4 linked regions of the Homo sapiens genome follow. Each later gene encodes a partner of the first gene's protein in a complex. Each region holds a gene or a part of one and is shown in the gene's direction. Other genes may lie near its edges.

What was found.
Region 2: STX4 (region 1) and STX5 share a complex: the UniProt entries of both Homo sapiens proteins name them as parts of the SNARE complex.
Region 3: STX4 (region 1) and STX18 share a complex: the UniProt entries of both Homo sapiens proteins name them as parts of the SNARE complex.
Region 4: STX4 (region 1) and BNIP1 share a complex: the UniProt entries of both Homo sapiens proteins name them as parts of the SNARE complex.

What each region holds. Positions count from the first base shown.
Region 1 is NC_000016.10:31,036,551-31,040,688, forward strand, and holds the end of STX4 (syntaxin-4), read left to right. Parts: intron 1-1,375; coding exon 1,376-1,484; intron 1,485-1,563; coding exon 1,564-1,640; exon of another isoform or gene 1,641-1,643; intron 1,644-1,959; coding exon 1,960-2,097; intron 2,098-2,990; coding exon 2,991-3,101; intron 3,102-3,172; coding exon 3,173-3,253; 3' UTR 3,254-3,268; intron 3,269-3,361; 3' UTR 3,362-3,614; downstream 3,615-4,138. UniProt on the Homo sapiens protein: Plasma membrane t-SNARE that mediates docking of transport vesicles. Necessary for the translocation of SLC2A4 from intracellular vesicles to the plasma membrane.
Region 2 is NC_000011.10:62,822,050-62,829,080, reverse strand, and holds part of STX5 (syntaxin-5), read left to right. Parts: intron 1-1,449; coding exon 1,450-1,520; intron 1,521-1,682; coding exon 1,683-1,738; intron 1,739-1,855; coding exon 1,856-1,926; intron 1,927-3,541; coding exon 3,542-3,658; intron 3,659-3,741; coding exon 3,742-3,798; intron 3,799-3,963; coding exon 3,964-4,045; intron 4,046-4,515; coding exon 4,516-4,622; intron 4,623-4,793; coding exon 4,794-4,915; intron 4,916-7,031. UniProt on the Homo sapiens protein: Mediates endoplasmic reticulum to Golgi transport.
Region 3 is NC_000004.12:4,539,025-4,546,858, reverse strand, and holds the start of STX18 (syntaxin-18), read left to right. Parts: upstream 1-4,810; 5' UTR 4,811-4,894; coding exon 4,895-5,062; intron 5,063-7,834. UniProt on the Homo sapiens protein: Syntaxin that may be involved in targeting and fusion of Golgi-derived retrograde transport vesicles with the ER.
Region 4 is NC_000005.10:173,154,528-173,161,558, forward strand, and holds part of BNIP1 (vesicle transport protein SEC20), read left to right. Parts: intron 1-4,216; coding exon 4,217-4,318; intron 4,319-5,405; coding exon 5,406-5,524; intron 5,525-7,031. UniProt on the Homo sapiens protein: As part of a SNARE complex may be involved in endoplasmic reticulum membranes fusion and be required for the maintenance of endoplasmic reticulum organization. Also plays a role in apoptosis.

The sequences.
Region 1 (4,138 bases):
AGGATACAGCAGTGAACCAGTGATCCCTGTCCTCATGGAACTTCCCTTCTGGTGTAGACAATCACCATAATAAATAAGTGAATTATTTAGAACATAATAAGCATTAAGGAAAAAAGAGCAGGGGAAGAGGGACTAAGCATGCTGGAGGAGGTAGAGTTGCAGTTGAAAGCAGGTGGAGGAAGCTTCATTCAGAAGGTAACATCTGAACAAGAGACTTAAAGGTGTTTGCTGGGAATGAGCATTCTAGGTAGAAGGAAAAGTGAATGCAAAGGCTTAAGCTGAGAGTGTGCTTTGTCTAGGGAGGGGTAAGGAGACCAGTGTGGATGGGCAGAGGAAGGGAACAGTAAGAGGAAGTAAGATCAGAGAGGTCATGGGAGAAGGAGAGATCATAGAGGGCTAGCCAGGCACCGTGGCTCACGCCTGTAATCCCAGCACTTTGGAGGCTGAGGTGGGAGGATTGGTTGAGCCCAGGAGTTTGAGACCAGCCTGGGCAATATAGTGAGACCCCCCCCCCTTTTTTTTTTTTCCTTTGAGACAGGGTCTCACTCTGTTGCCCAGGCTGGAGTACAGTGGTGCCATCTCTGCTCACTGCAACCTCCGCCTCCTGGGTTCAAGCCATTCTCTTGCTTCAGCCTCCCAAGTAGCTGGGACTACAGGCGCCCACCACTGCACCAAGCTAATTTCTGTACTTTTAGTAGAGATGGGGTTTCACCACGTTGGCCAGGCTGGTCTTGACCTCCTGACCTCAGGTGATCCACCTGCCTCAGCCTCCCAAAGTGCTGGGATCACAGGCATGAGCCACCGTGCCCGGCCAACCCTGTCTCTATTAAAAATAAAAATAGGCCAGGTGCAGTGGCTCACGCCTGTAATGGAGGCCGAGGCAGGTGGATCACAAGGTCAAGAGATCAAGACCATCCTGGCCAACATGGTGAAACCCCATCTCTACTAAAAATACAAAAATTAGCCGTGCGTGGTGGCGCGTGCCTGTAGTCCCAGCTACTCGGGAGGCTGAGGCAAGAGAATTGCTTGAACCCGGGAGGCCAAGGTTGCAGTGAGCCGAGATTGTGCCACTGCACTCCAGCCTGGGCAACAAGAGTGAAACTCTGTCTCAAAAAACAAATAATAAATAAATAAATAAATAAATAAATAAATAAATAAATAAAAAAGATCATGGAGGACCACATAGGCCTGATAAGGGCTTTGGCTTTTAGTCTAAGAGAAATGGGGGAGCCTGTCAAGGTCATCACAAGGTGGTTAAGGTGGCAGATCCCGCATAAGAGCTCATGCTATTTGCTCACTGTACTATGGGGTTGCCGAGGCACCGACCGGGCAGGGATCCTCCCAGGGGCACTCAGCCTATATTCTTCATCTTTAGCATGGGGTCCTGTCCCAGCAATTCGTGGAGCTCATCAACAAGTGCAATTCAATGCAGTCCGAATACCGGGAGAAGAACGTGGAGCGGATTCGGAGGCAGCTGAAGATCAGTGAGTTGTGCATGCCCAGCCTGGCCCGCAGGGGCAGGTAATCCCAACCCAACCCTGAGCCTGGCCTTTTCCTTCACAGCCAATGCTGGGATGGTGTCTGATGAGGAGTTGGAGCAGATGCTGGACAGTGGGCAAAGCGAGGTGTTTGTGTCCAATGTGAGTGGCCACAGCCAGCCCCTCTCTGCTGTGCCTCCCATCCCCTCTGAGTCCTGTCCGTTTCTCGACCTCCTGGGCTCAGGTGATCCTCCTGCCTCAGCCTCCCGAGTAGCTGGGACTATAGGTGCAAGCCACTGCACCCCGCTTGCTGTGGCCCTTTCTGATTAAGGGCACCCTGAGGCCTCTAAGGGAATTAATTAGCCTGCCTGGAGTCACCCATCAGATTCCAGGCTGAGGGCTCCCCAGAAGCTCAACAGGAGTTTCTGACCTGCTGTCGGTCTCCCTGTGAACAGTTGCCCCACTCCTGTCCACCCCCCAGATCCTGAAGGACACGCAGGTGACTCGACAGGCCTTAAATGAGATCTCGGCCCGGCACAGTGAGATCCAGCAGCTTGAACGCAGTATTCGTGAGCTGCACGACATATTCACTTTTCTGGCTACCGAAGTGGAGATGCAGGTGGGTGCCCCGCGCAGCCCCAGACGTGAGACCAGGCTCAGTCCAAACTGCCAGCCTCCCGCCACCCTTAGATTCTCTCCCTGAGGCTTTTGTGTCTTCCAGGTTTGGCCATGCCCCCAGATTGGTGCTTATTCCTATCCTTAGCTGTACCCCGAGAATGGCACCTGCCTCTGCTGCTACACAGATGCCCACTCCCTTCTGCATAGCACCCTGCCCCCTCTCCAAAACTTGAGCCTGCCCAGGTCTGGCCCCAGCCCTCACTCCCCCTCCACTAACAGCATCCACCCTTATACCTCTCAGAGGTCCAGTCAGAGTTGCCCTAGAGGGGCTGCCTCCTAACATCTGTACAAGGCTGGGGTGGGGGCGGCGTTCCCCTGGCCCTGGTTGTGAGTTGAGTTGAGCTTCCAGCCCTGTCCTGGAGGAGCTGGCCTCAGTCATGCTACAGCCAATGCCCTTTTGCAGCTGAGACTTACAGGAAAGAGATCTCATTCAGTAGGAGTACTGAGACCTGAGGCTGGTGGTGCCAGGAGGAGGCAGGGATAGGGAGGGCTTTGCAGCAGCTGTAGATAGGCCTGGAAGAATGGGTAAATTCAGACAGATTTGTGAAGGCACAGTTCACCATCTGTGAAAGGTATGAGCCATTTGAGGCCCTTAGCTCCAAGCTACCACTGCAGATAGAGGTTGTATGGGATAAGTGAGCAGGGGACAAGGGACTACATGATAGAAGGGGCCTGGAAGCCATCCCCAAGGAGTCTGAACTTTTGTCAGATCAAGTCTTGCCCTTGTCTTTGTTAGTGCAATTTTTTTTTCCTGCCAGGAATGTTCTTCAGTCATCTGGGGTGGGGTGGGCAAAGGCATCCTTACCTCCCTGAACCACCCCATCCTCTGAGCAGGGGGAGATGATCAATCGGATTGAGAAGAACATCCTGAGCTCAGCGGACTACGTGGAACGTGGGCAGGAGCACGTCAAGACGGCCCTGGAGAACCAGAAGAAGGCGAGGAAGGTGAGCCTCCCAGGCCCGGCCACTGCCCCAGGCACCCTGTGTGACTTCCCTGACCCCCTCCTCTCCCACAGAAGAAAGTCTTGATTGCCATCTGTGTGTCCATCACCGTCGTCCTCCTAGCAGTCATCATTGGCGTCACAGTGGTTGGATAATGTCGCACATTGTTGGTGAGATGTTGTGGGCTGCCCCCTGGCCTGCCCCAGCCCTGGCCCCAGCCCTCCCTCCTCCCTCAGACCCTGTTCTCCCTCCTTTCCTTACAGGCACTAGGAGCACCAGGAACCCAGGGCCTGGCCTTCTCTCCCAGCAGCCTGGGGGGCAGGGCAGAGCCTCCAGTCGGACCCCTTCCTCACACTGGCCCCTATGCAGAAGGGCAGACAGTTCTTCTGGGGTTGGCAGCTGCTCATTCATGATGGCCTCCTCCTTCAGGCCTCAATGCCTGGGGGAGGCCTGCACTGTCCTGATTGGCCGGGACACACGGTTTTGTAAAAAATTAAAAAACAAAAAAAGAGCATAGAAAGCCCTGTGCACGTGTGTTCCTGGAAGGGCTGGCCCAAGGCTTCCGGGCATCCAACCTCCTTACCTCCTGGACGTCCCCAGGGCCAGGTCTGGCCCTGGCTGCTCAGGTCAAACTGCCAGGGGTGCTGTGCCCACAGCAGGCTGGTTCTGCCTTTCTGCACCCCCATAGGAATGGGTGGGCAGGGAGGGGTAACACCGGCATCTAGCTCCTGGCTCAGTACTGTCCCCGGGAAAGGACCACTGTGAGTATCTGTCTTGGAAATGATGAGGCTGACCAGGCCAGGCTGGGACGCAGGTGAGATGGGGGTTTGGGTGGCATCAGTGGGCCTTCTTGTGGCCCAGAGGAAGAGGCACCATGAAAAAATGCCTAATTGAGGCTGTCACTTTGGATGCAGTGGATAGGGATGGTCTGGTTTCAGCAGGGATGACATTGGAGTGGGATGTTAAGCTGGGGAAGAGGTTGCCAGTCAGAAAGCACAGGAGGCCGGGCCCTGTGACCAACAAAAGCATCATCTTTTACA
Region 2 (7,031 bases), on another chromosome or scaffold:
TTTGTTTGTTTGTTTGTTTTTGAGACAGTCTCTCTTTGTTGCCAGGCTGGAGTGCAGTGACGTGATCTGGGTTCACTGCAGCCTCCACCTCTGGGTTTAAGTGATTCTCCTGCCTCAGCCTCCCAAGTAGCTGGGAATACAGGCGGTGCCAGGACACCCAGCTAATTTTTGTATTTTTAGTAGAGACGGGGTTTCACTGTGTTCGCCAGGATGGTCTCTGTCTCTTGACCTCGTGATCTGCTTGCCTCGGCCTCCCAAAATGCTGGGATTACAGGTGTGAGCCACTGCACCTGGCCAAGTAACTGTATTTATTTATTTGTTTGTTTGTTTGTTTATTTATTTATTTATTTATTTTGAGACGGAGTCTCGCTCTGTCACCCAGGCTGGAGTGCAGTGGTGGGATCTTGGCTCACGGCAGCCTCCACCTCCCAGGTTCAAGTGATTCTCCGGCCTCAGCCTGCTGAGTAGCTGGGACTACAGGTGCATGCCACCACACCTGGCTAAATTTTTGTATTTTTAGTAGAGATGGGGTTTCACCATGTTAGCCAGGTTGGTCTCAATCTCTTGACCTCGTGATCCGCCTGCCTCAGCTTTCCAAAGTGCTGGGATTACAGGCGTGAGCCACTGCACCCGGCCGAGTAACTGTATTTTTAAATATTTTTACTGATGGCTGGACATGCTGGCTGGCACCTGTAATCCCAGCACTTTGGGAGGCTGAGGTGGGAGGATTGCGTGAGCCTAGGAGTTCAAGACCAGCCTGGGCAATATAGCAAGACCCTATCTCTACAAAAAGTTAAAAATTAGCTAGGTGTGGTGGTGTGCCCTGTAGTCCCAGCTACTTGGGAGGCTGAAGTTGGAGGATCACTTGAGCCCAGGATGTCGAGGCCGCAGTAAGTTATGATCATGCTACTATATTCCAACCTGGGAGACAGAGTGAGACCCTGTCTCAAAAACAGAAAAGTTATAAAGAAGTGTTTTTCAGCTCATGGTAAAGCTGCTCTTCTGTATGATCTCCAAGAGCTTTGCAATCATCCTTATTGATTTCCTGATTTGAGGAATAGAATGGCAATACTAGATACCATTTATTTAGTGCTTACTATGTACCAGGTAGTTGACTGAAGTACTTTTCAGCCTTTTTGTTATTTAACCTTAGCAACAATAGGAGATGTGTGGATTGTCTTCATTTTATAGAAGAGAAAGTAGAGATTTAGAATGTTTTAAGTAACTCGCCCCAAATCCACCAGCTAGTAGTAAGTGGTGAGTCAAGATTTGAACTCAGGTCTACCTGCTCTTCAAATCTGGACTCTAAACGACTACCACTCATAAATCTAGATCATCTGATGGATGCCACCAGCACTAGAGATAGGTTAGTGGACACCTCAGGAAGAGTGAAAGCTGGAACTGGGGAAGGGAGAACTAAAGTTGTCACCTCCTGCCATTGCTTTTCAGAATGGAATCCAGACAAATAAGCCAGCTTTGCGTGCTGTCCGACAACGCAGTGAATTCACCCTCATGGCCAAGTGAGTTGAGAGAAGCTTTCTGGTGGGGTGATACAGTGTCTGAAGAAAAGTAGACTTGCAATCAGTGGCCTTGGCTGTGAAGTCTGGGATTGGTTATGCTGGAGCTTATGTGGGAAAAGGCGTCCTGCCCTTTCCCACAGTCTGACTAGTGGTCATTTGCAGGCGCATTGGGAAAGACCTTAGCAACACATTTGCCAAGCTGGAGAAGCTGACAATCTGTGAGTGTTCTTGGGGTCTTTCAGAAGTGGGGCAGTAAATCAAAGAGGGTTGAGGACTATATTCCCTGAGCTTTGTCCTTGACCTCACCCATTGTGGCTTCTTGTTTGTCTCTGTAGTGGCAAAGCGCAAGTCCCTCTTTGATGATAAAGCAGTGGAAATTGAAGAGCTAACATATATCATCAAACAGGTGAGCTACTAGCCATCAGGAGAGCCCAGCATTCCAATCAGATCACTTCTGTCTTCCTGTCATTTTCCATTGCCATGGGGACCCAGAGCAAGTTTCTTTTTTTAGAGAGGGGGGTCTCACTGTGTTGACCAGTCTGGAGTGTAGTGGTGTGACCTAGCTCACTGCAGCCCTTAACTCCTGGCCTCAAGCTTTCCTCCAGCCTGAGCCTCCTGAGTGGTAGAGACTACAGGGACATGCCCTCATTCCTGGATAATTTTTTTTTTTTTTTTTTTTTTGAGGCAGAGTTTTGCTCTTTCACCCAGGCCGGAGTGCAGTGGTGCGATCTTGGCTCACTGCAACCTCCACCTCCCAGGTGCAAGCGATTCTCCTGCCTCAGCCTCCCCAGTAGCTGGGACTATAGGCACCCGCTACCAATGACTGGCTAATTGTTTTATCTTTAGTAGAGACGGGGTATGCCAGGCTGGTCTCGAACTCCTGACCTCAAGTGAGCCGCCCACCTTGGCCTCCCAAAGTGCTGGGATTACAGGTGTGAGCCACTGCACTCGACTGTAATAATAACTTTTATTTTATTTATTTATTTATTTATTATTATTTTTTGAGACAGAGTTTCACTCTTGTTGCTCAGGCTGGAGCACAGTGGCGCGATCTCAGCTCACTGCAACCTCTGTCTCCTGGGTTCAAGTGACTCCCCTGCCTCAGCCTCCCGAATAGCTGGGATTACAGGCACGTGCCACCGCGCCCGGCTAATTTTGTATTTTTAGTAGAGACAGGGTTTCTCCACGTTGGTCAGGCTGGTCTCAAACTCCTGACCTCAGGTGATCCGCCCACCTCAGCCTCCCAAAGTGATGGGATTACAGGCGTGAGCCACCGCGCCAGGCCAATAATAACTTTTTTTTTTTTTAAGACGGAGTCTCACTCTGTCGCCAGGCTGGAGTGCAGTGGCGCGATCTAGGCTCACTGCAACCTCCACCTCCCAGGTTCAAAACGATTCTTTTGCCTCAGCATCCCAAGTAGCTGGGATTATAGGCGCGCGCCACCACACCCAGCTAATTTTTGGTATTTTTAGTAGAGATGGCATTTCACCATGTTGGCCAGGATGGTCTCAATCTCTTGACCTCATGATCTGCCTGCCTTGGCCTCTCAAAGTGGTGGGTTTACAGACATTAGCCATTGAGGAATTGTGTGTATGAAAATAGTTCTGTTGATGCCTCTCGAAACTACAGTGCCTTTGACTCTTCCCTTTTCCTGAGTACTGTCCGGGGGCTTTGTTGGTCATGCCCTAGACCCGAGATTTTGGCCTTTGAAAGGGTTCTGTGGCCAAGAGCATGGCCTCACAGAATGGAGCAGGGCAGTAGGCTGGAGGAGTAAACAAGTTATTTACAATGGATGAAGGCCTATTTTGCCTCTTTGTAGCTCTTCTCTGCAGGGACTGAGCCAGAGCAAACACTAGACCTTGGAAAATCCTAGCAGGCCCATCTGGTCTGACTGTCTGAGATACTCTCACTCTGGCTAGTAACTTCCACCTTGTCCTTCCTACCAGAGATGGCCATCGTGAGAGATGCTGACTAAGGACTCCTTGGCTAATACTTTGTTTTTCCTTGGACTCTTTTACCAGGACATCAATAGCCTCAACAAACAAATTGCTCAGCTCCAGGATTTCGTGAGAGCCAAGGGCAGCCAGAGTGGCCGGCACCTGCAGACCCACTCCAACACCATTGTGGTCTCCTTGCAGGTGGGACCTGGGGAGGAAGGGAGGGAGGCAAAGAGGAAGAATGTGGAGCCTTCTTTGGTTGACCCTCTCTCCTTTTCTTCTAGTCGAAACTGGCTTCTATGTCCAATGACTTCAAATCGGTTTTAGAAGTGAGGACAGAGGTGAGAACAATCTGCGTAGGAGGGGTAGGAATATGGGAGTAAAGATCCAAGAGGGAAATGAAGAAGGGACAAGTTCTACAGGGTCATGGGGCCAATGGTGGGAGTCTCTTTAACATGCCTGCTTTCTAGTGGCTTCAGGTCCTTTGCGTTTTTCCCCAACCCCAGAACCTGAAGCAGCAGAGGAGCCGGAGAGAGCAGTTCTCCCGGGCACCTGTGTCAGCCCTGCCCCTTGCCCCTAACCACCTGGGTAAGTCACAGGTAAAACGGGGAGCCCTGGGAGGTAAGGTTACTTACTCTGGTTGTGATGGCATCCTCTAAAGGCACGGGTTGGGTAGGAGAGTGGAAGGTCAAGGAATTTTCTAGGCTTTATCTCTCAGAGGCCAAACCAGATGGTTGAGATTCGTGATCCACATTTAGACTCCCACATTCTCACTGTTGGGGTGAATTCAGTTATATTCAGAATAATGATAATTTCTAATTTTTTTTCGTACACTTTATTCACATTCTCTCATTTAATTTTCACAACCACCCTTTGAGAAAGCAACTATTATTATCCCCCATTTTACAGGTGAGGAAACTGAGGCTCAGAGAGGTTAAATGACCTGTCCAGGGTCACAAGGCTAGTAAGTGCTAGAGCTGGGATTCAAACCCAGAGCATGTGGGCTTTGAACCTGCTTTTAACTGTTAAGGTGTGCCACATCCTGTTTTCTCCCCCAGGCGGTGGTGCTGTGGTTCTGGGGGCAGAGTCCCATGCCTCCAAGGATGTCGCCATCGACATGATGGACTCTCGGACCAGCCAGCAGCTGCAGCTCATTGACGAGCAGGTACCCAGGCTCTGAACTAGGTAGAATCAGCTTCTCCATTATCCTCTGTGGTTCCCGAGAGAGTGTTTGGAGTGTGCCATGGGCAGAATGGCAAGCTGGGAGGGTTGTAAAAATGCAGGTCTGACCCTGAAGAAGCTGTTGGTGCTCATGTGCTCTCTCCCTCTCCTGAAGGATTCCTACATCCAGAGTCGGGCAGACACCATGCAGAACATTGAGTCGACAATTGTTGAGTTGGGCTCCATCTTTCAGCAGTTGGCACACATGGTTAAGGAACAGGAGGAAACCATTCAGAGGTGAGATACACTCTCTCGCCCCAAACAGAGGAGCTTTCTCTTCCCCGTGGATTGGCATCTTAAAGTCCCCAGGGACTGCTTGATGCCTTTTGGAAGATAGAGTGAATTCTGCCCACCCATGGGACCCAGTTCACCTGCTTCCATCCACCCAACAAGTTTTTATTGAGCACCTGTTCATGTGAGGCACTGTTCCAGGTGCGGGAGATACAGTGGCAAGTAGAACAGTAAAGTCTGTCTGGAGCTGCTTTGTAGCATGTGTAAGTGTATGGAATTTGATAGGGCAGATGAGGACAGCTGTGGAAAAGAACTGACAAGGCTGGCACAGTGACTCACACCTGTAATCCCATAGGCAGCACTTTGGGAGGCCGAGCAATGCAGATCGCTTGAGTTCAGGAATTCAAGACCAGTTTGGGCAACAAAGCAAGACCCTGTCTCTACAAAAAAATACAAAAACTAGCTGGGCATGGTGGCATGGGCCTGTAGTCCCAGCTACTCGAGAGGCTGAGGTGGGAGGATGGCTTGAGCCTGGGAGGCAGAGGTTGCAGTGAGCCAAGATCGTGCCACTGCACTCCAGCCTGGGTGACAGAGCCAGATTCTGTGTCAAAAAAATAAAAATAAAAAATTGACCAACAAAATTTCAGGGAGTAATAAAGGCTGTATACAGAGTTAAAATAGGATGATGTGTTAAGAAAGTAATGGATGGGTACGGTGGCTTACACCTGTAATTCCAGCACTTTGGGAGGCCCACACAGTCAGTTGAACTCAGGAGTTCAAGACCAGCCTGGGCAACATGGTGAAACCCCATCTCTACAAAAATAAAAAAATTAGCTGGACATGGTTGCGTGTGCCTGTGGTTCCAGCTACTCGGGAGGCTGAGGCGGGAGGATGACTTAAGCATGGGAGGTTGAGGCTGCAGTGAGCCATGATGGAACCACTGCGCTCCAGTCTGAGTGACAGAGCAAGACCCCATCTCAAAAAAAAAAAAGAAAGTGACTAAGTAGGTATATCAGATTGTGTGGTAGGGAATGCTGCTCTGAAGACATGACATTTAAGCAGAGACTTGAATGACAAGAGGGATCCAACCAGGCAAAGAACAGAGAGTGTTCTAGGCCGAGGAGACAGCTAGAGCAAAGCCTTGTGATGGGACAGTCTCACCATAGCAAGAATCAAGAAGGCCTGCGTGGCTAGAAAGTAATGAACAGGGATAGAGAAGTACAGGGTGTACTGGAGGGATGTAGGCAGAGGCCCAACAATGGGCTGGCCTCTCTGTTCCTCTGGTGCCTCCTGCTACTACAAGAGTTTTTATCTGCTCCTCCTCTGTGGTGCTTAGCATTCAGTCAGTCAGTTATGGGAATATAGCAGTGGACAAAAGAGACAAAATCCTTGCCCTTGTGGAACGTGTATCCTAATAGGGAGATAGATGTGAAAAAGTCATAATAAATAGTATGTTAAAAAAAAAAAAGGTCGTAAATGCCAAAAAAAAAAAAAAAGATAGTCAACACAGGATAAACTAATCAGGAGTGCCAGGTTTGGAGGGAGGTAGGCCCTATTAAGAAGGTGGCATCACACTTGGGAGAAGGTGAGGAAATTAGCTACATAGACCCTGGCAAAGGCCCGCAGGTGACAATATGTTTGATGAGTTAAAGGACAGCAGAGACTACTGCAGCTGGGATCAATGAGGAAGAGAGTTGTACAAGGTGTGGTCAGAGGGGAACTGTGAGACCTCTTGGGACCATTGGTAGGCTTTAGCTTTTACTCTGAGTGACATAGGGAGCCATTGCAGGGGTTAGTTTTTCTGTGTTTGAGACAGAGCCTTGCTGTGTCGCCCAGGCTGGAGTGCAGTGGCATGATCTTGGCTCACTGCAACCTCCACCTCCTAGGTTCAAGTGATTCTCATGCCTCAGTCTCCCGAGTACCTGGGACCACAGGTGTGCACCGCCATGCCCGGCTACTTTTTGTATTTTTAGTAGAGACAGAGTTTTGCCACATTGGCCAGGCTGGTCTTGGACTCCTGGCCTCCAGTAACCTGTCCACCTTGGCCTCCCAAAGTGCCGGGATTACAGGTGTGAGCCATCACAACTGGCCAAATACATTTAACTTTATTTATTTATGCATG
Region 3 (7,834 bases), on another chromosome or scaffold:
ATATTACTTCAATGGGCGGTGGGGGGACAAAGGCCACACCTCAAAGGGCTGGACCACAACAACCTCCTGTTTGCTTCCTGCCTTTCCCTCGCTTTTTTTTGCACATCTGTTTCAAAGCTAAACTTCTGGGGGAGCTGCCGGAAGAAACCCACCTTGGGCCGAGTTCAGTGGCTCATGCCTGTAATTCCAGCACTTTGGGAGGCCGAGGTGGGTGGATCACCTGAGGTCAGGAGTTCGAGGCCAGCCTGGCCAACACGGTGAAACCCCATCTCTACTAAAAATACACACCCCCCAAAAAATTAGCTGGGCATGGTGGAGGACGTCTGTAATCCTAGCTACTTGGGAGGCTGAAGAAGGAGAATTGCTTGAACCCAGAAGGTGGAGGTTGCAGTGAGCTGAGATCACGCCATTGCACTCTAGCCTGGGCAACAAGAGCAAAACTCCATCTCAAAAATAAAAAAATAAAAAAAAAGAAAGAAAGAAAAAAAAAAGAAAAAAAAAAACAAGAGAAATCCACCCTGAATTCTTTATCTAGGTTCCCTCTTGGGAACAAAAGCTTCTTCTTTGAGCTTCCCACCCCTAGAGTCAGGGTCCTTTCCAGAGTCCCTGAGGGGGGAAAAATGGTTTTCAATGAATTTCATTGAGTTTACCTCCTAACGTGAAGGTATATGTTTTTGAAGGCCTTTCCTCTTGTGTTATAAATTCTACCCTGCCATGGTCACAGTCTTCCAAGGTTTCTGCCACTCTGTCCCTGCCAGCCTGGTCTTTTCCATTGGTTAGGTTTAGGCACAACTGTTCTTTCCTCTCCATGCTTCATTCACTGAGGAATAATACTGTTACGATGGTGAGTGGAGAATACATCTAATATTCCTGTTTTGGTAGATACCTAGATATGGGTTGTCATCAATCAGGACAGGCTAATTATGCTGCAGTTAACAAACACCCACAAATCTGTGGACAATTCTCAATCTTAGTACATGTCTGTGATGGTTAATATTGAGTGTCAACTTGACTGAAGGATGCAAAGTATTGTTCCTGGGTGTGTCTGTGAGGGTGTTGCCAAAGGAGATTAACGTTTGAGTCAGTGAACTGGGAAAGGCAGACCCACTCTCAATCTAGGTGGGTACAATCTAATCAGCTGCCAGCATGGCCAGAAGAAAAGCAGGCAGAAGAACATGGAAAGACTAGACTGGCTTAGTCTTCTGGCCTACATCTTTCTCCCGTGCTGGATGCTTCCTGCCCTGGAACATCAGACTCCAAGTTCTTCAGCTTTGGGACTTGGACTGTCTCTCCTTGCTCCTCAGCTTGCAGATGGCCTATTGTGGGACCTCACCTTGTGATCATGTGAGTCAATACTCCTTAATAAGCTCCCCTTTATATATACACCTATCCTATTAGTTCTGTCCCTCTAGAGAACTCTGACTAATACAATGTCCTTGGTTGGCTATGCTCCATGTCATCTTTACTTAAGGACTCAGGCTGATGGAACATTGGAACATTAAGGGTTGTCATAGCAGAGGGAAAAGAGCATCGTGAATCATACATTAGCTCTTAAATTTGCTGCCCAGAAATTACACGTTGGTTTTCACTGGCAGCCTACATCTAGTCTCCTTGCATAGGTGTTGCTGCTGTAGTGAGCTATATTTAGGGGTGCCAATACAGTTGATCCTTGATGACTCCTCCACCCCTCACAGTTGGAAATTTGTGTATAACTTCTGACTCCCTAACATCTTAACTAATAATAGCCTACTGTTGACCAGAATCCTTATCAATAACATAAACAGTCCGTTAACACATATTTTGCATGTCATATGTATTAGATACTGTATTCTTTCAATAAAGTAAGCTAGAGAAAAGAAAATGGTATTAAGAAAATCATAGGAAGAGAAAATATATTTACTATCCATTAAATGGAAGTGGATCATCATAAAGTAAAGGTCTTCATACTCACCATCATCACATCGAGTAGGCTGAGGAGCAGGAGGGGTGGGTCTTGCTGTCTTAGGGATGGCAGAGGCAGAAGGAAGTCCGAGTATTAGTGGCCGCATGCAGTTCAAGCCTGTGCTGTTCAAAAGTCGACTGCGTATTTTTCAGAACAGTGTCTGGCCCACTCAATGTTTGCTGAATGCATAAAGAAAACAAAATTTGTATACTACATCCAACTGGGCAGTTGTGTGCTACCTCCAACAGGCCAGGCATGGTGGCACGCGCCTATAGTCCCAGATACTCAGGAGGCTGAGCCGGGAGGATTGTTTGAGCCCTGGAGTTGCAGTAGTATACTCTCACAACATTTCTGCACATCCTTTTAACCCACATCCCCTCTCAGCTTTATGGGGCTTAATATTAGTCAACTGTCAACTGAAGTCACTTTGCTCTTTTAAATTAAAGAGTAAACACAAAATGTAAAAAGCACAACCCCATATCCCATGGTCTGTGGAAAGTTCAGCAGCCTCCTCAAGATCTTTGTGACTTATTTAGGAATTTTATGTACTTGTGGTCACTTGTGGATTTACAGCCTGATGTTTTGAGCTCACTTGGGTCTTATATCCACCACAATCTTCTCTGCTCTTGCAAATCCAGACAGAAAACTTAGATCTTTGTCCCTACCCTTCTACCCAAAATATCCAACTGCACCAAACACACGGTTTACACAAGGCACCACTCACTGAAGGCTTGGTGTAGTTCAGCCTCCCTCCCACTCAAAGATCCTTCCCAGTTACCTACTTTGTACTTTCCCGGCCCCCTCCCTGGGTTCTGGCTTCTCTTTTCTTCCCCCCAATTCAATCCCCCTCACTTTATTATGCAGGGCAATCTCTCTTTCCTTCTACTCTACCCCAGGCTTAACTTTGCATGGCCAAAAACTGATTAATGTCTGGATTAAACAAAGGGCCATTTATGCAAGATAGAATCATTGGCAGAGATTTTGTAATTTCTTTCTCTTTTCCTCAGTAGGTGGAAGAAAGCTGTATGGAAATTTATTTTCCTTAAACTGCAAGAAGTGGCTACAGTTTGGGTTTAAATAATCTTTTCCTGGCCGGGCGCGGTGGCTCACGCCTGTAATCCCAGCATTTTGGGAGGCTGAGGCAGGCGGATCACGAGGTCAGGAGATCGAGACCATCCTGGCTAACACGGTGAAACCCCATCTCTACTAAAAATACAAAAGAATTAGCCAGGCGTGGCGGTGGGCGCCTGTAGTCCCAGCTACTCGGGAGACTGAGGCAGGAGAATGGCGTGAACCCGGGAGGCGGAGCTTGCTCCAGCCTGGGCGACAGAGCAAGACTCCGCCTCAAAGAAAAAAAAAATCTTTTCCTTCCTCCTTTCTGGTAAATATATACTTTCTTGACATCTATTTCTGATAAACTTTATTTTTTTAACACAGTGGTTCTCAAACTTTTGGTCTCAACTCTTTTGCACACTTAAAAATTATTAAGGGCTCTAAACAATTTTGGTTTATATTGACATTATCGACATTTACTATATGAGAAATCAAAACAAAAACTTGATGTTTTTGAAAGTCTTTTTTTGGAGTCTGGCTTAATAGAAAACAGCTGTTCTGCATTTACTCCGTTGCAATATCACAGTCTCCAGCAAACTCAACTGTATGCAACTCATAAGAAAATCAGAGCGAAAAGGCAAATAACATCTTAGTATTGTGAAAATTTTATCTTGATGACCATTAAAACTGCTGTTTTAATACATATTCTACTTGTGCTTCCTCTTTATGAAAAAAGAAATCTTGAAGAAATCAATGAGATTTTGAATTAAAACTGAACCATAGGCCAGGCACGGTTGCACGTGCCTATAGTCCCAGCTACTCAGGAGGCTGAGTCCGGGAGGATCGTTTGAGCCCTGGCGTTCCAGCTGTAGTGAGCTAGGATGGCGCCTCTGACTAGCCACTGCAATCCAGCCTGGGCAACATAGTAGACCCCCGTCTCAAAAAACAACACAAAACAGAACATGAACCTAAAATGCAGAAGAAACTCATTGATTGAGTTGTCAATTTTAATAGCTATGGCTCAAGACGGTACAATTAAAAACTATGCATGAAGGATGAAGAGAATCCAGCGGCATTAGGGCCACTCTTTCACCTTTGTCTCCATCTAAACTTCCTATTCATCCTTCAAATCTCTGCACAGGTGACGCCTTTTCTCTAAAGCCTCTTCCTTTACCACAAATAACAGTGATTATAATAATAACATTATTAACGATTACTACCATTTATTGGCCACTTACTAGGAGCCAAGCAACATCAAAACACAGCACGCGTCAGCTCACTTAATTTTCACAGTAAACCCCGAGGAGGATGCTGGCTTCACTTTAAAAAGAGGTGACTGAAGGTTGGAGAAGAAAGGCCTCTGGCCTCTAGCTCTGTGCCTTGCACACCTGATCTGTCTCAGCATTTATTGCATCCCGAGGGTCACCGTCCACGTGCCTCTATCCTGCTCAAGGTGAGTTCTTGCAGTCAAAGGTCAAGGGTGGCTCGTCTCCACTTCCCCCGCAACCAAACCGCCCGGTCTCAGTGAGGGAGCCGCCAGAAGGGAAGGAGCCTCCTAGCTTCCCGGTCCTCACGCTCCCGGAGCCCACACGCCCCAAACAGACACAGAAGAGCTCGCTGAGCTCTCCGCGCAGCTAAACCCTCCAAGCTTTGCTGGGAGAAACCGATGCCCGAGAGCGCGTCGCGAGGTTCCTCCTCCGCCAGGTGCGCCGGCTGAGGCCGGAACCTTTTTCCTCCCGCCGCGGTAGCAGGGCGCAGGCCGGAACCTTTCTTCTCGCGTCGCCGTTGCCGGGGGGAGGCGTGTGGGGCAGGACCAGTCCTTCAGCGGCCGGGTTCGCGCCGCGGTCGCCGGCTGCTTACGTGGGCGGGCCTAGTGTGGGGCTGAGGGTGCGGGTCGCTATGGCGGTGGACATCACGCTGCTATTCCGGGCCAGCGTCAAGACCGTGAAGACGCGGAACAAGGCGCTGGGAGTGGCGGTGGGCGGCGGGGTCGATGGCAGCCGGGACGAGCTGTTCCGCCGGAGCCCCCGGCCCAAGGGCGACTTCTCCAGCCGGGCCCGCGAAGTGGTGAGCTGGTTGCTATGGAAACGGCGGGTTGAGGAGGGGGCAGTCCTGCGACAGGGACCCCGGGCCCCAAACCAGACCCCGTCCCGTAAGCATTGTGTGAAGGGGGTGGCTCTAAGGGGGACAGAAGAGTTGGCCTCAGAGACCCTACAGCTTTTTGGGGGAAGGAACAGCCTTATTTTGAGGAAGGGGGACGCATATTGGGGAACAGATTTCTCCTGCGGCGACAGGGATTGGGGGACAAGAAAGGAGATCCTCAGAAATCTCTATCTGGAAAGTGCATGGGCGGCTTTGTGAGGTCATGAGTTCGCCGTCACTACAGACTTGCACTCAGGGGAAACCTCCTGACAGTCCTTCGCTTCCTGTTGCAGCACTGACCACACCATATTTGCCTGTTCTATTTACTTGTCTGCCTCCCACCCCTAGTTGAGATTAAAAACTGTATTCAGCCGAACTCTTTCTTCCCTTTGTCTCTGCAATAAGTAGGACTCAGTTCCTCTTGAGACGGGTTTAGGGTAATCTTTCGCAAACACAGTGTTACAGTCACCTCAACTACTTTCTGTTCCCTGATCAGAGCAGGTGTCCCTTCATCTCCCTGGGAACAGGAACCTTTTCCTTAAGGGCAGGGACAGTGTTGTTTTCATCTCAGAATGCATGACTCATAGCATTGCTTAGTAAATGTTTGTTGAATGAGTGAATGAACAAATGGCTGTCTTTCCCATTAAACAGAAAACTCCATAAGGGGAGAGCTGTTTGTCTTGTTCCCTTTTGTGTTCGTGACACCAAGGAGGTATCTAGGTTTTGTGGGGCCTACAGCTTATATAGTTCTGTCTGCCCTCTTCAAGAAATAAAAATCACCAAGAAAGATTCAGAGCTTTGGAAGATTGAAGAGAGGGACCCTAAAGCTTAAGCCTCATTAATTTCACAGTAAATCCTTCTCTGCTTGGCATACACTTGGCACTGTATAGACACTCAGATATTTTTGAATGAATGTAGTCATGCATGCATTAATGACAGTTAGCAGAGGATACTTAAACATTAGAAAGGGGATTGGACCAGATGAATACACTCGCCCTATTGATGACCGTCTATGAAGCACCTACCTTCTGACCAGCCTCGTGTTAGAGTAATATGATGTAAAAGCAGTGGTGGAGTAGACGGACATAGACATAAAACAAGTGCCATAAAGCCTTGCAGGTGTTGTGTAGGGCACAAAAAGAATGTGGTCAGTTCTACCTGAGGACCAGAAAAGGCTTTATAGAGGCGATGATGCCTAAAACAAATCTTGAAAGAGGATTAGTTGGTTCCAGTGCAGAAGGACATCTCAGGCTAAGAGAATAGTATGCGCTAAGCTGTGGAGGTAGGTAACAGTCTGACATAAGTTGGTTCAATAAACATTTGAGTGAGACTGGAATGTGGGACTCTCATAAAAATTGGACGCGGAGATCTTAAAGGGCTTTGTGTATCATTGCAGAGTTTGAATTTTGCCCTGTAGATGGTCAGATGTTATCTGGTAGAGAAAGCACCAGAGAAGGAGCCAAGAGACGAGGTTGTTGTCTGAACCCTGCAACTATTAGCTATATGATTTCATTAAGCAAGTTTTAAGACCTCAGTTTATTTACCTGTAAATGGTCCTTTTTTTCTCCTCCTCCTTTTAAAAAACTACCTTGGTCCTCTATATGTAACAAATTAAAGTGGGAGCTTCCTAGGTTGAAATAAGAGGAAGAGAAACAGGACACTCTCCCTCCCAGTTTGGCCCAAGCACTTCTTGAGATTCCTTTTGTAGAACTGTGGTATGAATATCACAGTATTGGCTTTTTAAGGGTCCCTTCTAACTCTGAAACCACTGATTTATTAACACTGTGCTAATTTTGAGTCCTGCTCAGGGAAAGGGGGGATTTGGGAATGGTAGAGACAGGAGGCACAGTTGGGTTGGCAAGCCCTTTGGAGAGCCCTGTGATCACTTCCACCTCTCCCTGAGTGGTGAAAATGTGTTTGAGTTTTGAGTTAATGGGCCTCAGGGACAGTAACAGTCCCATAGGGTGCTGAGTTCCCTGTCACTGGAAGTGATTAAACAGAGTGATGACTGCTTTTCAGAGATGTTTGAGAAAAGCTTTGTGCATATGTCACAGGGTTGGACCGCATGACAATGCAACTTGCAGTTCTGCTATGTATTGATGTGAGTAGGTGTCACATCACCTTAAGTGAGTTCATGGGCTGTGTTGTTCAGGGACACTGTCCCCCTGACGTAGAGGAAACATACATTCTTTTAAGCAATTTTGATTTTATGTTGTCATTGCTTTGTGTATTATCTCCTGTTCTTGCAACCGTTCCCCACTCCCCATCTTCTCTTGTGGGAAGTTTAACTAGAAGAGCTAGTGATGGATGTCCTGTGCTTTTACTACAATTAGATGTCAAAAGTTTGGCTGTTATTTTGTTTGGCCTGGATTCCTTATAGAGAAAAGTCTGGTAAATACCAGAAGCACATATTCTAATTCAGGTTTAGCCCTGGTTGTCAGACTTAATGAAATGTAATAAGTTATAGTATGCCTTTTGGTAAGTGCCTTCCTTGAAGCATTTGCTGTTACTTCTAGGATGCGTTTTATCTGGTTCAATTTCTATTCTTCCATTCCATTCCTCAAATATATGCCTGATGCCAGATTTCCATCTCACTGAATTGTTGTAGAGGTTATATTAAGTTGAATAAAATTGCATTGAAACTGCAATTTTATTGCAGTCCCTACCTTCCAACAACAGGCTGATTGCTTCTGCATC
Region 4 (7,031 bases), on another chromosome or scaffold:
TTTTTTTTTTTGAGAGACGGTGTCTCGCTCTATTGCCCAGGCTGGAGTGCAGTGGCCTGATCTTGGCTCACTGTGACCTCTGCCTCCCGAGTTCAAGCAATTCTTCTGCCTCAGCCTCCTGAGTAGCTGGGATTACAGGCGCCCACCATCACGCCTGGCTAATTTTTGTATTTTTACTAGAGACAGAGTTTCGCTGTGTTGGCCAGGCTGGTCTCTAACACTGGCCTCATGTGATTCACCCACCTTGGCTTCCCAAAGTGCTGGGATTACAGGTGTGAGCAACCACGCCCAGCCAATTGCATCAGTTACACACTGGTGGAATGTTCTCTCTCAGTCAGCAATAGTCAAGTGGGGGCGAGTGGGGAAGGGATAAATAGGGCCTATCTGAGCAGGTGGAGCTGAACATAGTTTACAAAAGCATATTTAACATTATACTGTATTGTATATTTTTAATCAAAAAATATGATTGCTTTTGTAATACAGGGTCATTTTTTATCTAAGGATAATTGGTACCAGAAAAAATCTACAGAAAGAAAACCTGCTGAAGGTGGACCAAAATTTAGAAGGTTTTGAGTGGGATGCTGTCTAAAAATAAAATAAAATAAAATGCAAGAAAAACCGTAAATTAAACAAAATTGAGGTCAAAAATTAAAACCAAAATCGAGGTTGTAATTGCAGGTGTGTGCTAATCCTTGATTATATAGTTACAGTTATATGCCATTTCTTGTTATTGAATTGGGAGAGGTTTAACTTTTCCAATGAAATTGTCAGACAACATGAAACAGTATCTTTCCCTTCACATTTGACTTTTGTACCAATCATAAAGAGGGTTTTTCCAAACATATTTGAGGTATTCAGATCATTCTCTCTCTTTTTTAAAAATACATTTTTGGCCCAGTGCGGCGGCTCACGCCTGGAATCCCAGCGCTTTGGGAGGCCGAGGTGGGCAGATCATGAGGTCAGGAGTTCGAGACCAGCTTGACCAACATGGTGAAACCCCTCTCTACTAAAAATACAAAAATTAGCCGGGTGTGGTGGCACACACCTGTAATCCCAGCTACTCGGGAGGCTGAGGCAGGAGAATCGCTTGAGCCCGGGAGGCAGAGGTTGCAGTGAGCCGAGATTGCTGCACTCCAGCCTGGGTGACAGAGTGAGACTCCACCTTAAAAACAAAAAAAAAATATTTTTATTTTTAAAAAATTAAAAAATTTTGGAAATGAGGTCCTTCTCTGTTGCCCAGTCTGGAGTACAGTCATAGCTTACTGCAGCCTCAGGAACTCCTGGGCTCAAGCGATCCTCTCACCTCAGCTTCCCAAGTAGTTGGGACTACAGCACACTCCACCGTGCCTGGCTAAATCATTCTCTTTTGAAACCCCTGCTAAGTTGTCATTCCCATGGGTTTTCTCTTTGTCTCTTGTTCACTGGTCTGCCTCTGCCAGATCTGTATTTGTGGCTTTGCTTCTGATTTGAGCAATTTGCCAGCATCATCTTCCCTGCAAGCAGCTGTGTATGTAACAGTCAGCTGTCAGGAAGACACCGACTGGCAAAAACACAGGCACAGGGAGGCCAGTGTAAGCAGGGAGGGCTGTATGAGTGGTGGGCAGTGATCCAGGGCTTGGCTATTTCACGAATACTTTATGTTATGATGGCTTTTGCTTTCCTGAGCCACCAAGCCTACTCAGATTATAAACACTGAGTACAGAGGAGCCCTTGTATAAAGTATGGTAAGTTATGCCAGACACACTCAGCTTAGCATGGGTTTAAAGCTGGGAATGGCCATCCACAATGTAGCATTACAGGCCAGAGCAGAGAAAGCTGTCAATTTATACTTTGGGGCTATGTGCAGTAGCTCACACCTATAATCCCAGCACTTCGGGGGCCGAGGCAGGAGGACTGCTTGAGCCCAGGAGTTTAAGACCATCCTGGGCAACAAAGCAAAACCTCATCTATTAAAAAAAAAAAAAATTAGCTGGGGGCATGCTGATGTGTGCCTGTAGTCTCAACTACTTGGGAGGCCAAGGCAGGAGGGCAGTGGGCTCGGGAGGTCAAGGCTGCAGTGAGCCGTGATCATGTGACTGCACCTGGCCTAGGAGACAGAACGAGACCCTGCCTCTTTTCTTTTGTTTTTTTTTTTTTTTGAGACAGAGTCTCACTCTGTCACCCAGGCTGGAGTGCAGTGGCGCAATCTCGGCTCACTGCAAGCTCCACCTCCCGGGTTCACGCCATTCTCCTGCCTCAGCCTCTCCGAGTAGCTGGGACTACAGGCACCCGCCACCACGCCTGGCTCATTTTTTATATTTTTAGTAGAGATGGGGTTTCTCCGTGTTAGCCAGGACGGTCTCGATCACCTGACCCTCATGATCCGCCGGTCTCAGCCTCCCAAAGTGCTGGGATTACAGGCGTGAGGCACCGTGCCCAGCCGACCCTGTCTCAAAAAAAAAACAAAAAAAACAAAAAAAACCAACTTTGGCAGTTGAAGCAGTAGTTGTGCTTGCTTGGGTCATCATGCTTGTCACACCATACAGTGAGTATCTGTTTGCTTGTCTTTTTCCCAAATGAATGTGAGGTGGTTGAGGAGAAGTACTGCCCCTCATTCATCTCTGGATCCCAGGGTCCTGCAGAACCCCCTTGCAAACTGTTTCAAAATGTAATGGATTCTTTAAAGTGGCAGGTGTGAAATGGCGGAGCAGGTGCTCATTAAGACCTTCAGCATAAAGGTGCTATTAGAAAACCACCCTGTCAGTTCATGTACTCTGTGTTTTGATTTTTGAGTATTTCCAGAGATTAGCACAATTGGTTTGAGCTGGCTACATAAGAGTTCTGAAGTATGAGTTTGATTCTTAGAGAGACGCAGTTAGCTTTTTTATAGTCTATCAACAACTGTCAACATTTCTTTTTTTTTTTGAGACGGAGTCTTACTCTCATTGCCCAGGCTGGAGTGCAGTGGCGTGATCTTGGCTCACTGCAACCTCTGCCTCCTAGATTCAAGTGATTTTCCTGCCTCAGACTCCCGAGTAGCTGGGATTACAGGCACTCGCCATCATGTCCAGCTAATTTTTGTATTTTTAGTAGAGACAGGGTTTTAACATGTTGGCCAGGCTGGTCTCGAACTCCTGACCTCAAGTGACCCACCCGCCTCGGCCTCTCAAAGTGTTGGGATTACAGATGTGAGCCACCACGCCCGGTCAACTGTCACATTTCTAACTCCAGGAAGCTGTTCACCAACTTTCCGTTATCACCCACAAGTTAGCGCAGGTGAAGACTGTAGATCCGCCGTGTCAGTCAGGGCTCTGCTAATCCATCATGTTTGTGTCATTCATGATTGGTCTGTAGTATGGAAAGAACAACAAACCTTGAAGAAATATTTTGAAAGATTGGCTTTTTGTGTGTGTGTGTGTGTTTTTTTTTTTTTTTCTTGAGAGAAGGTCTTACTCTGTCACCCAGGCTGGAGTATAGTGGTACTATCACGGCTCACTGCAACCTCCACTTCCCAGGCTCAGGTGATCTTCGCTCCTCCGCCTCCTGGGTAGCTGGAACCACAGGCATGCGCCACCACCATGCCTGGCTAATTTTTTGTATTTTTAGTAGAGACGGGGTTTCTCCATGTTGCCCAGGCTGGTCTTGAACTCCTGGGCTCAAGTGATCCCCCCACCTCGGCCTCCTAAAGTGCTATGATTACAGGTGTGAACCACTGTGCCTGGCCACGATTTTTTATTTCCTACAAAGTATATTAACTCAGCAGCTGAAGGGCCAGAAATGGTTGTTCAAGATACTGGAGATGAGTAAGTCATGGTTCTCCGGGGATGGTACCAATTAATACACAGGCCATAGCAGTACAGCCTTAGAGGCAACTGGACTGAAGAGGGGCCTTGTGTGACCAGCTGGGAAGTTTGGATGCCTCCCTGAAGTCCAGCCATTGTGGAGCTGTGCACAGAGGAGTGCCATGTTCACAGCCCCTTGGGCTGACGGGGGCAGAGTGACAGCAACAGAGCCTCCCCGTGGCGACCTCCAGGGTCCGGTCAAGGGGTATCAGGACCTGAGCAAGAACAGTTGCTGGGGAACCAGGAGGCGGAAGTGGCAGGAGGTGGGATGGGCTCTGAAGGCCGTGCCTGGTGGCCTTCTCCCGTGTGCCTTTGTTGGGGGGAAGTGCTGTGAATTGAACTGACTTATGGCTTGGTGGAGTGGACACACTCACACGTGAACCTTCCAATTCCAGCAATCAGGCCTCATGGAGGAAAGCTAATCTCACCTGCAAAATTGCAATCGACAATCTAGAGAAAGCAGAACTTCTTCAGGGAGGAGATCTCTTAAGGCAAAGGTACCTATTCTTTTATTTTTCTGGGCTCCGATAATAATAGATAACAATTGGCAAGGTGTAGGAAACCCCCTCTTGTTTTCAGCTTGGTGCTTAATTTAATTACATAAGTAATTTTTTTAAGTTTGAAAAAAATGCATACTTATTTGTAGTAAATTGGTAAAATAAAGTATGAATTACAAAATTAAAATATTGAATTTTTTTTTTTTTCTGAGATGAAGTCTCACTCTTGTAGCCCAGGCTGGAGTGCAGTGGTGCCCTCTTGGCTCACCGCAACCTCCGCCTCCTGGGTTCAAGTGATTCTCCTGCCTCAGCCTCCAAAGTATCTGGGATTACAGTTGCGTGCCACTGCACCCAGCTAATTTTTTGTATTTTTAGTAGAGACGGGGTTTAACCACGTTGGCCAGGCTGGTCTTGAACTCCTGACTTCTGGTGATCCACCCACCCCAGCCTCCCAAAGTGCTAGGATTATAGGCGTGAGCCACCATGCCCGGCCGAAAATATCAAATCTTATTACTCATGAACATTTTGGTATATTCTCTCCCTCATTTTTATTTCTACATTTCTTACAAAGTCAAAATTGTACCATACATAAAATTTCATATTCTGCTGTTTCAGCACAAAAGTTGTTCATTAAAAAAAAAAAAAAAGCTTTTTAAGCCTAATTCTAACAGTACATAGTATGTAGATTGTATGTTAATACAATTCCCTGTGTGTGTTTGCATTTCTAGTGTTTAAGTAGTGTAAGTAATACACCAGGGCATGTCTTAGAACATAAGGCTTTATCCACATTTTGGATGTTTCCTTTGGAGGGATTTCCAGGGATGAGATGATTGAGTCAAAGGAATGAACATTACCAAGGCTCTTCAATTGGCAAATTGCTTTACAGAAGGCAGCACTGGTTTATGTTCCTACTAGCAGTCCACAGGGGCGTGGGTCTCAGCACACCCTTTCCAGCATTGAATGTGATCATTTAAAATATGTATACTAATTGGATAGGTAAAACATGAGATCTCATTTGGATGTGGGGCCTTCTTGCAGGGAGGCTTTTGTTGACATTCCTCCCCTTTCTCTTCCTCTGAACTTTTAGGAAAACCACCAAAGAGAGCCTGGCCCAGACATCCAGTACCATCACTGAGAGCCTCATGGGGATCAGCAGGATGATGGCCCAGCAGGTCCAGCAGAGCGAGGAGGCCATGCAGTCTCTAGGTAAAGCTGGGCCTGGAGTAGGAAGCTTCTCCCAGAGACGCTGCTCTAGGGCCCTTGCCCTGGCACCTCCACTCTGGGCTCCTCCACCACAGCCCACACGATGTTCACTGACTTGGGTGGCTTCTCCCTCATGAGATGACTTGACACCATGGTCTTATCCAGTGTGGGATGTGCTGCTCCTATTTCTCTTTTTTTTTTTTGAGATGGAGTTTCGCTCTTGTTGCCCAGGTTGGAGTGCAATGGTGCGATCTCAGCTCACCGCAACCTCTGCCTCCTGGTTTCAAGCGATTCTCCTGCCTTAGCCTCCCAAGTAGCTGGGATTACCGGCCTGCACCACCACACCCGGCTAATTTTGTATTTTTAGTAGAGACGGGGTTTCTCCATGTTGGTCAGGCTGGTCTTGAACTCCCAACCTCAGGTGATCCGCCTGCCTCAGCCTCCCAAAGTGCTGGGATTATAGGCGTGAGATGCCACGCCCGGCCCGTATTTCTGTTTACTAGAAGACCCCACACCCCCATCGATGTTTCCTCAGGGGGAGCATTCCCATGTGTTCATGTGAAAGGCAGAGGTCCCAGCCCCTCTCCTAGAGAGGGTGTCGGCAGGGCTGGGTGAGGGGCCTGGAGTCTGATTTTCAGTGAGGGCTCTGGGGACCCATATGGCCAGGCAAGTTTGGGAATGGTTGCTCCAAGAGATGTTTGGCGAATCAGCTGCTGGTAGGACTGCTAGGACCTCAGTTTACAATTATACTCCCCAACGTTATTTTTCCTATGAGTTCCTTTTAAAAGATGTGAATCAGAGGCTACAGGAGAGACTGCTTGAGACCATCTGGTTTCCTCCAATAGTTTTCCCAGAGTGTCTCCTCTGTGATGGAGAAGAGTATCAGCCCTCTCCAGGGTCCTTCAGTATAAGACAACAGAAAAAGGGCGTTTACTCCTTGAAACGCTTTTGGAAAATTGCACACGTGGACAAAAGGAGAAAGCATGGTATCCTGAATCCCCTGAGCCCTGAGTCCATTACCCCAGCCAGTCTCGTTTCAGTTCTACCCTCAGCCCATCCCCCATCTGGATTATTTTGAAGCAAATCCCAGACATCATCCATAAATATCTCAGTACATCTCTCTAAAAGATAAGGGACTCTTTGGGGAAAAAGCAGAAGCAACCCCATAACTACAATACCATGATCACCCCTAGAAATTATAATTTTGGACCACTGTTTTTTCAGTGCACCAAATAGGCAGAAGCAAAAGGAAAGCAAGCAGGTGACCCCAAGGTCACTCCTTGAGTTTGCAGCTTACCTGAACATCTGGGCTCGGAACCAGCCAGGGGCTTCCTCTCAGCGTGTGCTGTGGGAGAGGCCTTGGAGAGAGAGGGAGCAAGGCGACAACTTGGCCTCTGAGCCCAGGGCTTTTATGCTCTGGTGTGGCGACAGCATACCCCCCGCTAACAGTGGGAAGGAAACACAAATGCTGGTGGCTTCTGGGGTGTTGAGAGGGTCCCGGTGTTCTTGG